Linked DNA regions of Homo sapiens: region 1 is linked to region 2. The links come from fine-mapping of genetic effects on gene expression. A gene starts in region 2. The other region holds a variant in brackets. All regions are shown on one strand. Distances are from middle to middle.

Region 1 (5,364 bases), 42 kb before region 2:
CTCAATCTTCTGACCTCATGATCCACCCATCTTGGCCTCCCAACCTTTAATCCATATTCTTACCAACACATACTTGTTTCTGCCCATCTGATAGCTAAAGCGTCTTGTCTTTCTCAGGCCATGGTTGCATTCATCAACTCGATTGATTCTCATAGGAACCCTGGGCAGAGGTGGCACAGGTCTTATGTGTGACCACCTGGCAGGAGGGCACACTGAGGCCCAGGGAGGGAATGATGCATCCAGCATGGCTGGTTGTGACCAGTCAGGAGCTGAACAGATCCAGGAGTCTGCGATCCCAGGCATTCATCACACCATAGGGACCACGTACAGGGTCAGAACACAAACTTGGCAGCCCATCTTTACAGAATAAAACATATTTAAATAACCTGTACTATGTAGATATCAATAACTACCGACACTAACAGAGGACAAAATAATTACCATTTTAGGGAGCTTTTATTTCACAAAACACTTTGTATATCCATTCCTTTTTTGATCTTGATAACTCCATAAAAAGACTTGGATTATTACTGTTCCCACTTCACAGATAAGAAAAATGAGGTTCACAGCTAGTCAATAGAAGATTACATCATGAACCCGTTTGCCTTTAAGGTGTGTCTTCTGTGAACACCCTTGGAGATGGTTTGCCTGAGACTTGGGAATTCTTAACATGTACTGTGAGCACAGGTGGGTCTGTGCCATCTCTCCCGGCTTCCTGCACAAGTTCCCTGGCAACTGAGGTCACACCACAAACACATTTTTCCTCTCATGGGGAGGCTCAGCCTCAGGTTTTATGCACCTGAAGTCAGACTGACAATAACATCTTGGCTCTGCCACCTAACACCTGTGACCTTGGGCAGGTTACCTCTTCTGTGTGCCTCGGTTTTCTCATCTGTAATGTTGGAACGCTAGCACCTACCCCCCAGTCAGGGTGCACAAAGCAGTTGAGGTCACACATGCACAGTGGCAGGTGCCCAGAAGAAACTCAAATGCTGGCTCTTGCAATGAAGCCTATAATTGTGACTTCTAGCCACAGGAGCAGCCAGTGGTCCTGGTGAGGAAGGCTCCGCACAGCACAAGTCACTGGTGTGGTGACTTTGGAAGACAGCCCACCTGCACAGGCTAAGGAGGCTCTATTTTGGAGATGCCAGCTCCCGGTGGCCAAGCACAGGACCAGGGAAGCCACAGCCAGTGGCACACGGCAGTCCTGTAAGAACATCCACTAGGTCACTGGAGGGACCCTGGTAAGTCCACTTCATTTTTCTCATGGCTTGAAAAATATCAAAGGATTACAGCGCGAGGGGTTCCTGATGCAGAACTGACACTGCCTCACCTGCATCGTCCGGACCGACAGCCTCAAGACCCCCGAGACAGAAGGCAACCCGCTGCCACAACCTTCTGCCACAGCTGACAGTGAGAGGACCAGGTCCTGTTTCTAGGGCGGGGTGCAGGGGAGTCCACACCAAGTGTGTTGGGTGGAGGGAAACTGAGAGGAGTGAGCGAGGGAGGGATCACAGGTGTGTTAATCACCATTCTCCACTTCTGCCCATCCCAGAAGGCCTCGTCCACAATTTGGGAAGCAACCCAGGTTCACTGCTGTTCTTGACACGAAGTCATCACCAGCAACTAGTTATCCTAAGTCCAGGGATGGAGGAGAAAGAACACATGATTAGAATGCAGGAGTCAAGTTTAGTTGGGTAAACTGTAGCCTTTGCAAGCTTCAGTATACAAGGAAGCTAAAAACACCTCTCCCGCCTTCCTCATGCGTGACATGCCTTGAGAACTGCCGAGTGCCAGGTACACAGCAGGCACTGAGTGAATGCCACTGAGCTGCTCCGGCCCTGGGTGGCAGGGATTCAGCTGTCGAGGTGAGGGGGCAGAGAAGCCATCCACACCCTTCCCTGGGTCAGACACACATTGACCAGGGTAGTTGGTTCACTCTGTGATCATGGGACAACCTGGAACTCTATCCAGCCTTCCCAGAAACTAAATCTATAACTGTGGCCTCATAAGCTTCCTATTCAACCATGAGGACAATCATAGTGGGTTGGTGACAGGAGGAGAGTCACAGGCCTCTGGAGGGAGAGTTCAAACACCAGCTCTATCCCTTGCTAGCTGGGTTACCTTGGATAAGTCGCTTACCTTCTCTGAGCCTCAGTTAAACCATCTGTAAAATGAGAAGAATCGTGCCTAGTTTGTGCTCTTGTGAGAAGGGAAGAGACTATGTCTGCTTGTCACAAAATAAGTCTTCAACAAATGGTGTCTGCGAGTTTAATTCCCTGGACCTCTAATTCGCCATCTGTGAATTGGGGACAAGTGCTGTTCCCTGGCAAGGCTGCCATGAAGACGAAATGAGACAACTTATGGAGCAAGCACAGGATTCACTCCTTACTGGAGGCCCCACAAGGGCAAGACTTAGGTCTGTTTCATCCTCCAGTGAATTCTCAGGGCCTGGCACACACAACAGGCCCTCAGAAAACATCTGCAGAGTGAGCGAACACTCTGACTGCTCTCAAAATAGTAACTGCAGGTGGCTTAATGTCTCTGAGCCTTAGCTTCCTCATCTGTGAAATAGGAGAGCTGTTGTGAAAATGAACAGGCCTATAGCAGAGGCTCCAAACAGTCTCCGACCCTGAGAGGGCCTTGCACCCATTCCCCAGGCAGACACCACGCAAGGCGGCTATGTAAGTAAGAGCAATGTTTACTGAGCGATACAGGACTGAGTACTATGAAGGGTTTACAAGGATGGAAATGCACCCCGCCCCCGCCCTGGCCACCCCCGACACCCAGAGACTACAGTACTTAGGAGTTACACACAACGGCCGTAACTGGTGGCTATCTGTTCATAACAAACAAACCATAGCATATTTATACTGTATCACATCGAGTGATTATAGAAATCCATATATATATTGCTTGTATAAAATCTTTTTTTTTGTAAAAAATATTAAAAAAAAAAAAAAAAAGGAAAGTATAAAAAACATGTGCAGTTGAAAGCCCTGCCAGGACAGCCAGTCTGTAAACATTCGGTGAGTATGTGCTTTGGAAGGGCGCCCGCGCCTCAGTGCCCACAGCAAACTCCAGCAGGGCTGGCGAGGGTGCGCCCGGCTGCCGCCTCCTGGGCAGGGCCGCGCTGGACCGAGGTGGGTGGGGGCATCAGGGCCCCGCAGCACGCCCCTCTCCAGCTTCGCATCAGGGCGAGGGGCAGGGCTGGGGGCAGGTGGGTTGCAGTTTCATTCTGAGTTCCATCCTCAGCCGCGTTTTGGTTGCAACTCATGGCTTTTCCTGGCTGTTCGGAGGTTCCTTGGATGGGTGCCCTGGTGA[A/G]GAGGCCAGAGAAGAGCCCAGGGCTGCCTCGTTGGGCGTCTCCCTGGCCTCGGTGCCTCTGTCCTGCCTCCTTCAAGTGGGGCCCCAGGCAGGACAACCCTACCCGAGGGTCAACTTTGGTCTCAGCGCTTGGTCCCTCTGGGTTTCCTCAGCCCGCTCTTCCTCCTGGGTGGCTGATCTGAGTTTCACAAAAAAGCTCGGCTGATGCTGGCTGTGCTGAACCTCATTGTACAGTTTTTCATGCACCAAAGGAAGGGCCATCTGGGGCCCCCCTCCTCCTCTCTCTTCGTCACTTTTCCTTCTCCTCTTCCTCCTCCTCCACCTCCTCCCAGCCCATGGTCACTTCTTCTCGAGCTGCTCGAGCAGTGGGTTGCCTTCTGACTCGGGGGTCTTGACACTGTCGGTCCGGACGATGCAGGTGGGGCGGTGTCGGTTCAGCATCAGGATGAGCTGCTGCCGCTCCTGCTTCAGCTCCTCAATCTGGGTCTTCAGCTCTGCGTTCATGAGTTCCAGCCGCTCGGATTCCTGTATACCAACACAGAAGCACGCTGTGAGTTTCACGGGGACTGGCTCTGGGGAGAGGCTCTGCCTGTGGTTAGGCACAGGGCACGCTGGGCTGGCACTGGCCTGTTTTCTGCAGGAAGAAGCACAGACCCTGCTACTGAGCCCCTGGCTAACTGACTTTCTGCAGGCAGTGCCTGCCACAGCGGTGACACTGGCCTGTGTCATGTCCAGGTTATATTCTAGGGCCAGCCAGACTCACGTCCCACCTCTCTCCCCTCCCTCAATCCACCCCAGCTTCAGTGACCACCTTGCTGTTGCTCAAATATGCCAAATACTCTGCCGCCTCAGGGCCTTTGCACAAGAAAGAAAGGGTGGGCAAAGAAAGGAGGCCAGGTGGACCTAGAGCAGGTCTACGGAGCAAGCATGGGGGGGCCCAAGAGGGGACCCAGATGGCAGTGTAACGGCAACGTGCTTTGATGTGTGACAGACACATGTGGGAGATATCTTGGCCGGTGGGATCAGTGAGTGTAGTGTAGTCATGTCATTCCTCCTAAAACATGTGCTTCCTAGCTATTAGTCTATAATTATTTCAATAGCCTCTTCCTTATCCCTATAATCTGGAAGCTTTGCCCACAGACAGGGAATCAGCAGTCATCCTGCTGGATCCCAAATGAGGTTTCCAATAGACCTTGAGTGAGATTTCCAGGGAACTTCCGGCTCAGCTGGAGAGGTTCCAGGGGAAGGAAGGAATGTTGACGATTTGATTCGGGAGGTGGCGAGGGTTACATGTCCATCGTGTAGATGGGAGATGGGCATATCGATTCAAGGCTTGGGGGATTGAACAGTAAAACAGCATCTGAATGATTTTTCTTGGATTATGTCTGAAAACTTTGAGACTTGGCATTTATTCGAGGGCCAGCAAAGTTTCAGACCAGTGGTTCTCAACTAGGACTGATTTTTGCCTCCCAGGAGACATTTGGCAATGTCTGCAGACATTTTTGATTGTCACAACTCAGAGGGAGCTGTGCTACCAGCATCTAGCAGGTAGATGCCAGAGATGCTCTAAACACCCTTCAATGCACAGGCCAGCCCCACAAGTATTTAGTCCAAAATGGCGATAGCGTAAGAGATTGAGCAACTTGTATCAGTCAAAGAGCAAGCAGTAGTTGCAACTGCGTATGTGACAACCAGAGGGCCCGTAAGCCCATAAGCCTGCCAGTCCTCCTGGCAGGGTACAGGTGGAGCGGCCTCCCCAGGGGGTCCCCAGAACCCTCAGTGGGCCCAACCCTCTCCCTCCAGGGGTCCCGTCTTCCTCCCACAGCTGGTCTGACCGAACTGTTCCTTGGCTCATCTCTGAGGTGGCAGCATGAGTGCCCGGGAACTCTGAGACGGGCAGGCCTCGTGACCAGACGCTGAGAGAAAACAGCCTCACTAAAGGAAAAAAAAATGCTCGGGGAAAATATTAAAAACCAGCTCTGGTGGTTTTTGGTTCCACAGGCTGGGACGTGACTGGGAAGCTGGCCTGGTCCTCTGTTC
Region 2 (5,364 bases):
AGGCCTCCCACAGCCAGCAATAAGTAAAGAAACACAGTCTGAAAATTCCAAGACTGGGTCGCTAAGGCATTTGTCTCTGCTGAGTTCCGAGAGGCCAAACCACACACACACACAAGAACGCATGTGCACACACATGCACACGCACACACACATACACAGGCACATGGAGCTTGGCAGCCCCTAAGTTCCAGAGCTGGTAATACAAGCCACGGAACCGACTGCCAAGACAAGCAACAGAATGAGCCAGGCCCGGTTTCATTGGCCACCATACGCTGCATATGGCCCGGGACGCAGCCAAAACAGTGTTCTCACCCTCCTCAAAGGCATAGGAGACCCTCTGTTTTCAAACACACCTCCACAGAGCCTTAATTAAAGGAAAATGGAAAAATAATGTGCCTGCTGCCCTCCCCTGCCTATATAGGTATGCACACACACATACCCATATACACTCACTCCATTTTTCTCTTCCTCCCATTTCGGTTTCAAACATAATTCATTCGCATGGAAAAAAAGCAAACTGCATCCTGCAGCAGAAAGGCAGAAAAGAATGTAGCTTGCCCTCAACCCTGGCTCTGATTGCTCAAGTTGAGCTGGAGCTGAATGAATACAGAGCAGGCCGGCCTAGAGTCGGCGTTGGCCCCTTTCTTTCCAGAGTGGAGCTGGAAACAGACACTCGAGAGAGACAGCCCATTGCAACACCAGTAGCCCCACGACAAACAAGGCCCAGAGAGCCTATTCCTGCCAGGGATTCTGCAGGTTGGAAAAAAATGCCCACACATCCTACAAACAGGTAGGGAGATGACAACAAACCCAGGGAGTCAGGAGGAGCATTCCCTGGTAGCTGCAAAAGTTAGGCAGTGGATGAGTGGGGAGACCCTTATCCAAACCCTTCCTAGGGGGCATTGTCACCACTTTGCAACACATCTCCTTGGAGGTGGCTGCAGCCAACCTAGGAGAAAAGCCAGAGGTCTACACACCCATGACTTCCTGCAGCCCACCTAGGAGAAAAGCCAGAGGTCTACACACCCATGACTTCCTGCAGCCCTTCAAATCACACAGCACCCAGCTCTTCAGGAAGATTCTGGAGCTGCCTGCAGCTCTGAACCAAAGCCAAAGTAGAAGGGAACAGAAGAGTCTTTGAGAAATCCATCCTCCCTGCTCTAAACAAGGCAAAACCTTAACCACCCAGAGGTGTGAGAATAGATTTTGCTTCTCTTCCTCGATCCTCAGGTTTATACAAAATCAGAGCCATGCTCACACCTGATACCTGGTTAAACTCTCCCCTAGAAACCTGCAAAGGAAGATAAGCTATCCATCCAAGCTGCAGCCAGATTTGCTGGAAAGGTAAAAGCAATGGGAAGTGTTTTTTAAAACCCTCAGGGAAGGAAGGTTGGGGGGAAGGGAGATGATACGCGAATGCAGTTTCTACCAAGGGCTTAAAGGACGTTTGGGTACAAATGTACCCAAACATGGTTCAAAGCTTCCCAATTCCTGATGCTCCTCCAATTAAGACCCTAGGGAGAGACCACCAAGATTTAAGCCTGGGTACACACGCCTAAGCAGGCTGCAAGCCCTTTCTGAGATATAGACCTGAGCACATTTGCCCTGAGCACACGTGGTCGGGCCATAGCCCCATGCCCTGGATTCCAACAGGGAGGGCAGCACCCTGGGCAAGGGCCACGCCATCTTGCAACTGGAGATGACCCAAGGGGGTCGGCTGATTTCTCCTTCCACCAGCCTCTCCATCCCTGCAAAAGAGCCAGGACCTCCCCATCTTCCCCAGCCTCCTCATCTTCCCTGCTCCTCCTACTGACCCAGGCAAAGCCTGGCTCTGCCATCCCAGGGTCCAGGGATCCAGGTGGAAGGCCCAATCCACCCCTACACTCTCCCACCCCCCACTGCACCCCTACCCCTCGACAACCTCCTTTGAAGGGAGGAGCAGAGGAGAGCCTTCTAAGCTGGGCTGGGCAAGGGAGAGGCTGGTTACCTACAGGAGCCTGCTTGCCTCCTTATATAACCTGGCGTGGGAGACAGGAGAGCCCAAAGGGGACCCCGGCCACCCCTAGATCCCCTCCCAGCCCAGAGCTCCGAAGCAATGGCCATGAGAGAAGCTGCCTTCATTGGATGGAAATCCCGAGCCCTTCTCAATACTCTCCTCCGGGTCCGGGTCCTCCGGGAGTCGCGCTTCCTCACTGCCAGGAGGTCCTTGTCATCCCTCCACAATCTAACCCCGACCCCAACCCCGCACCTCCCTGGCCCTTCACCCTCCACCTCCACCCGCACAGCCCATCTCCGCGGGCACTTTTCTCCCCACTCACCCCGCCTTCCCCGCCGCCCGAGGAGAGCACCTCCCTGCAAACGGACGGGGGAGGAGAGCGCGGGAGGGAGAAGGAGGGAGCACCCCGGCTGTCCAGGGAGCGGACGGAGCCTCCCGTCCCGGGGCGGGAACCAAAAGGAAGCCTCAGGCTGCCGGGCGCCTCGCGGGAGGGGCCCGGCTGCAGCGCCCGGCGCGGGGAAAGCTCGAGGTCCCTGGGCTGCGGGAGCCTCCCCGCGGGGCTGGGCTGGGGCTCCTCGCGCTCCGCCCGTGCGGGGGCGGCCGTCCCAGGTGCCCGCGCCGCGCCCTGCCCCGCCCCGCCCGTCCCGGCGCCCCCAGCGCGCGCCCTCGCACCCACCGTGCAGAAGGTGCGGGGGGAGGCGGCGCCCCCGGGGCCGGGGCCCGGCTGCAGGCGCCGTGCCCGCTCCGCGCCGCTGCCGCCCGGCCGCGGAGCTCCGCCCGGTGCCCAGGCCTGTCCCGGCCCGGGAGCCGCCGCGGCGCCAGCCCCGCCGCCGCTGCAGCGTCCGCCGCCGCCAGCGCCCCCCGTCGCGGCCGCCGAGCGTCCCTCCCGCAGGCTGTGGCGGGCGGCGGGACGGGTTGCATCAGCCCCGGCTATATAGCGGCCCCTGGGCGGCGGGGAGGGGTCGGGAATGCGGAACCGGCCGAGCTGCCAGCTCCAGACGTCAGAGGGGGACGGAGAGGAAGGGAAGGAGGGGACCGGGGAGGAGGGGGTGTGGAGCCGGCGCTTCACACCCACTGACCTTAACCTCCCCCGCCGCCTTGGGCGCCCTCCTCCCGCGGCCGCTCGCGCTCCTCTCCCCGCGGGGGCGTCCCGGGTTCCATGCAGTCCCCCGGCTCCGCCACCCCACGGTGCAGGAGCGCTCGAGAAAGCAGGACGCGGCGAGCGGTTATGTAAGCGCACCCCCCGCGCACCGCCGCCCGGCTTGTGCCCGCCAGGCAGCAGCAGCCGCAGCCCTAGGAGAGAGACGCGAGAGGCCGGAGCCGGGGGAAAAGTCAAAAGCCCCTTCACGCACAGCCTGTGTTAACCATGTACCTCAGTCCCGGCGCTTCCCCCACAAACTGAGAGCGACAGGGAGAATTTCCGCACAGTTTCATCCTTGGACACTTCAGGACTGAGCGGGTGAGGAGGCGATCTCGCCAGCCTGCTTTATTTTTCGGTGGAGAAGGATGGGCTGAGATGAAGGCATTTGGGGACTCCTACCCCTACCCACCGGCCCCCGCCAGCGCCCTTAGGCCCCGAGACGGCTGGCTGCACCAGCCTGACCTCTGCTAGGGCTGCAGCCTGAGACCGCGGCTTGCTCTACTGCTGGCGCAGTTTGACCCTTGGGCTTGTACCCTGCTCCAGCGGGCTTCTCCTTTCCACTCCGGACACAGCAGTGAGCAGACCCAGCCCTCAGCAGACCCCAAGTGGCCTTCTTCCCCGTTCCAGCTTCAATAGCCAACCCCACTCCCACCTTCCATCCTTCTAGAGAGGAAATGGTGAAGGGGACTCCAGAGGGAAGGCGACATCCATGGTGCCCTCCAGTATACAAAGGCAGAGACACAGAGCCCTCAGGTAGAACGGGGTTCCCTAGATGGCATCTCCTACCTCCAGAGCTCCTGGGTACCCATCGAGCCCCCTACCTTCTGCCTAAGCCAGATAGGAGTGACGATTTTTATACTCAGCGACTTTCGGCCTCCTTCTGAGAGTGATGTCAGGTCATCACCCATAGAAGAAAGGAAGTGAAAGAAAAAGTTCATGCCTTCTTGGAGTGCAGATGCTCAGAGTGAAAGAAACAACAAGACTTGAGACAGATGGGTGCCATTGAGCAAACCCGAACATGCATGTCTCTCTCATGTGAGTGAGTGCATGAGACTTTATTCTCCTTATTTCCCCAGTGCAGTGAAATCTTTCTGGATAAAAGAAGTGGGCTAATGGAAGGAGAGACAGACCAAGTCCCAATGACATTGCCTGACCATTTTCACCTTCGCCATCAGCAGTCTCCCTCACAGCATTGGTGTGGGCAGGTAAGAAGAAAGCAAGGCCCTGAAAGAATATACATTGGAAAATGAGCAGTAATTTGATACTCTTGTGGAAGAGCATGACTCTTCGCCCCAGAAAGGCCAATGACACCTTTACTACAGCGTAAAGATCAAAGCCAGGGACTGTGAAACTGCCTCATGATGTTTCTCCCATGAGACCTGTGTCTGGATGTTTATATGGAACAAAACATGGAACAGAGGCAATAGTACTTGATGTGTCTTCAGCTGGGGCTTTGGATAAACTAAACTGATCTATATTCAGGGACTAATAATTAGGGTGTGTGGTTAGAGCGCGTCCTCTCTAGGGCCTGTTTTGGACTGTGGCTGGGCCACCAGCAGTCCTACTGGGCCTTTGCTTCCCCCACAAATTAAATATGTTACAGGGGTGGCACCAAGGGGTGACTTGGGAGGCCTTTAGTCCCCTCTACCTCTCTATAATCTCCATTAGATCTTCTCTGTTATTTGCTATTGATGCTTTTCAGTTTCATATAGGACGCTATAAGAACACAGCTTCAAGGCCTCCCTTCCGCCACATACTCCCTACTAGGCCCCTCTACGTAGTCACTGCCTCTGGGAGTGGCTAGAGGGAGAAGCCATAAACTGGGTCCTTTATGCAGACATTGGATGCTGGATGGAGCTGATTTACCACTGGCTCTTAGGGACAGACAAGTGACTCAGCCTAAGGCAGTTTGAATTTAAGTTTCCTATCACAACTAGAAAAGTCCTGATTAACACGCCCAGCCCTAGTCAATGGGCTGATTGAGAGATCGTCACATATCCCAAGAAAATCTCACAAGACTGGGAATTTTGTGGATCTGCTGGAAAGAGAAGCTGCCAGAAGCCCCACGTGAAAGGGAACTACTGAGAGTGAAGCTAATGGGAGGAAAAGTAGAGCCAAGCCACGGAGGGAAAGACAGATCAAGTTCCAATGACATTGCCTGAGTTCCTGAATTCAGTCATGCCTGACATCATCCTGACCTCTGCAGGTTTTAGCTATAGGAATCAGT

Direction of the effects. Alleles are on the strand shown, and positions count from the first base shown. SD is a standard deviation of normalised expression in the study named.
As copies of G replace A in region 1, the expression in cerebellum of the gene that starts at base 2,903 in region 2 goes down (small effect, 0.26 SD a copy in GTEx).

Evidence for each region.
Region 1: its variant is fine-mapped to the expression of JDP2 in cerebellum (GTEx, PIP above 0.99).

What each region holds. Positions count from the first base shown.
Region 1 is chr14:75,467,775-75,473,138 of GRCh38, reverse strand. JDP2 (Jun dimerization protein 2) reads right to left here. Exons shown (of 4, transcript NM_001135048.2): 4 at 1-3,849. The coding sequence ends at 3,664. Among named protein-coding and RNA genes, the nearest start is that of JDP2, 42 kb to the right of the region's middle. The variant A/G (reference allele first, on the strand shown) is at 3,325.
Region 2 is chr14:75,425,561-75,430,924 of GRCh38, reverse strand. It overlaps JDP2 (Jun dimerization protein 2), which reads right to left and starts at 2,903. Exons shown (of 4, transcript NM_001135048.2): 1 at 2,673-2,903. JDP2-AS1 (JDP2 antisense RNA 1) reads left to right here and starts at 3,270. Exons shown (of 2, transcript NR_184172.1): 1 at 3,270-3,455; 2 at 4,214-5,364. RefSeq lists silencers at 2,255-2,424, 2,485-2,664, 2,915-3,184 and enhancers at 2,850-3,407, 3,375-3,434, 3,455-3,784, 4,035-4,134.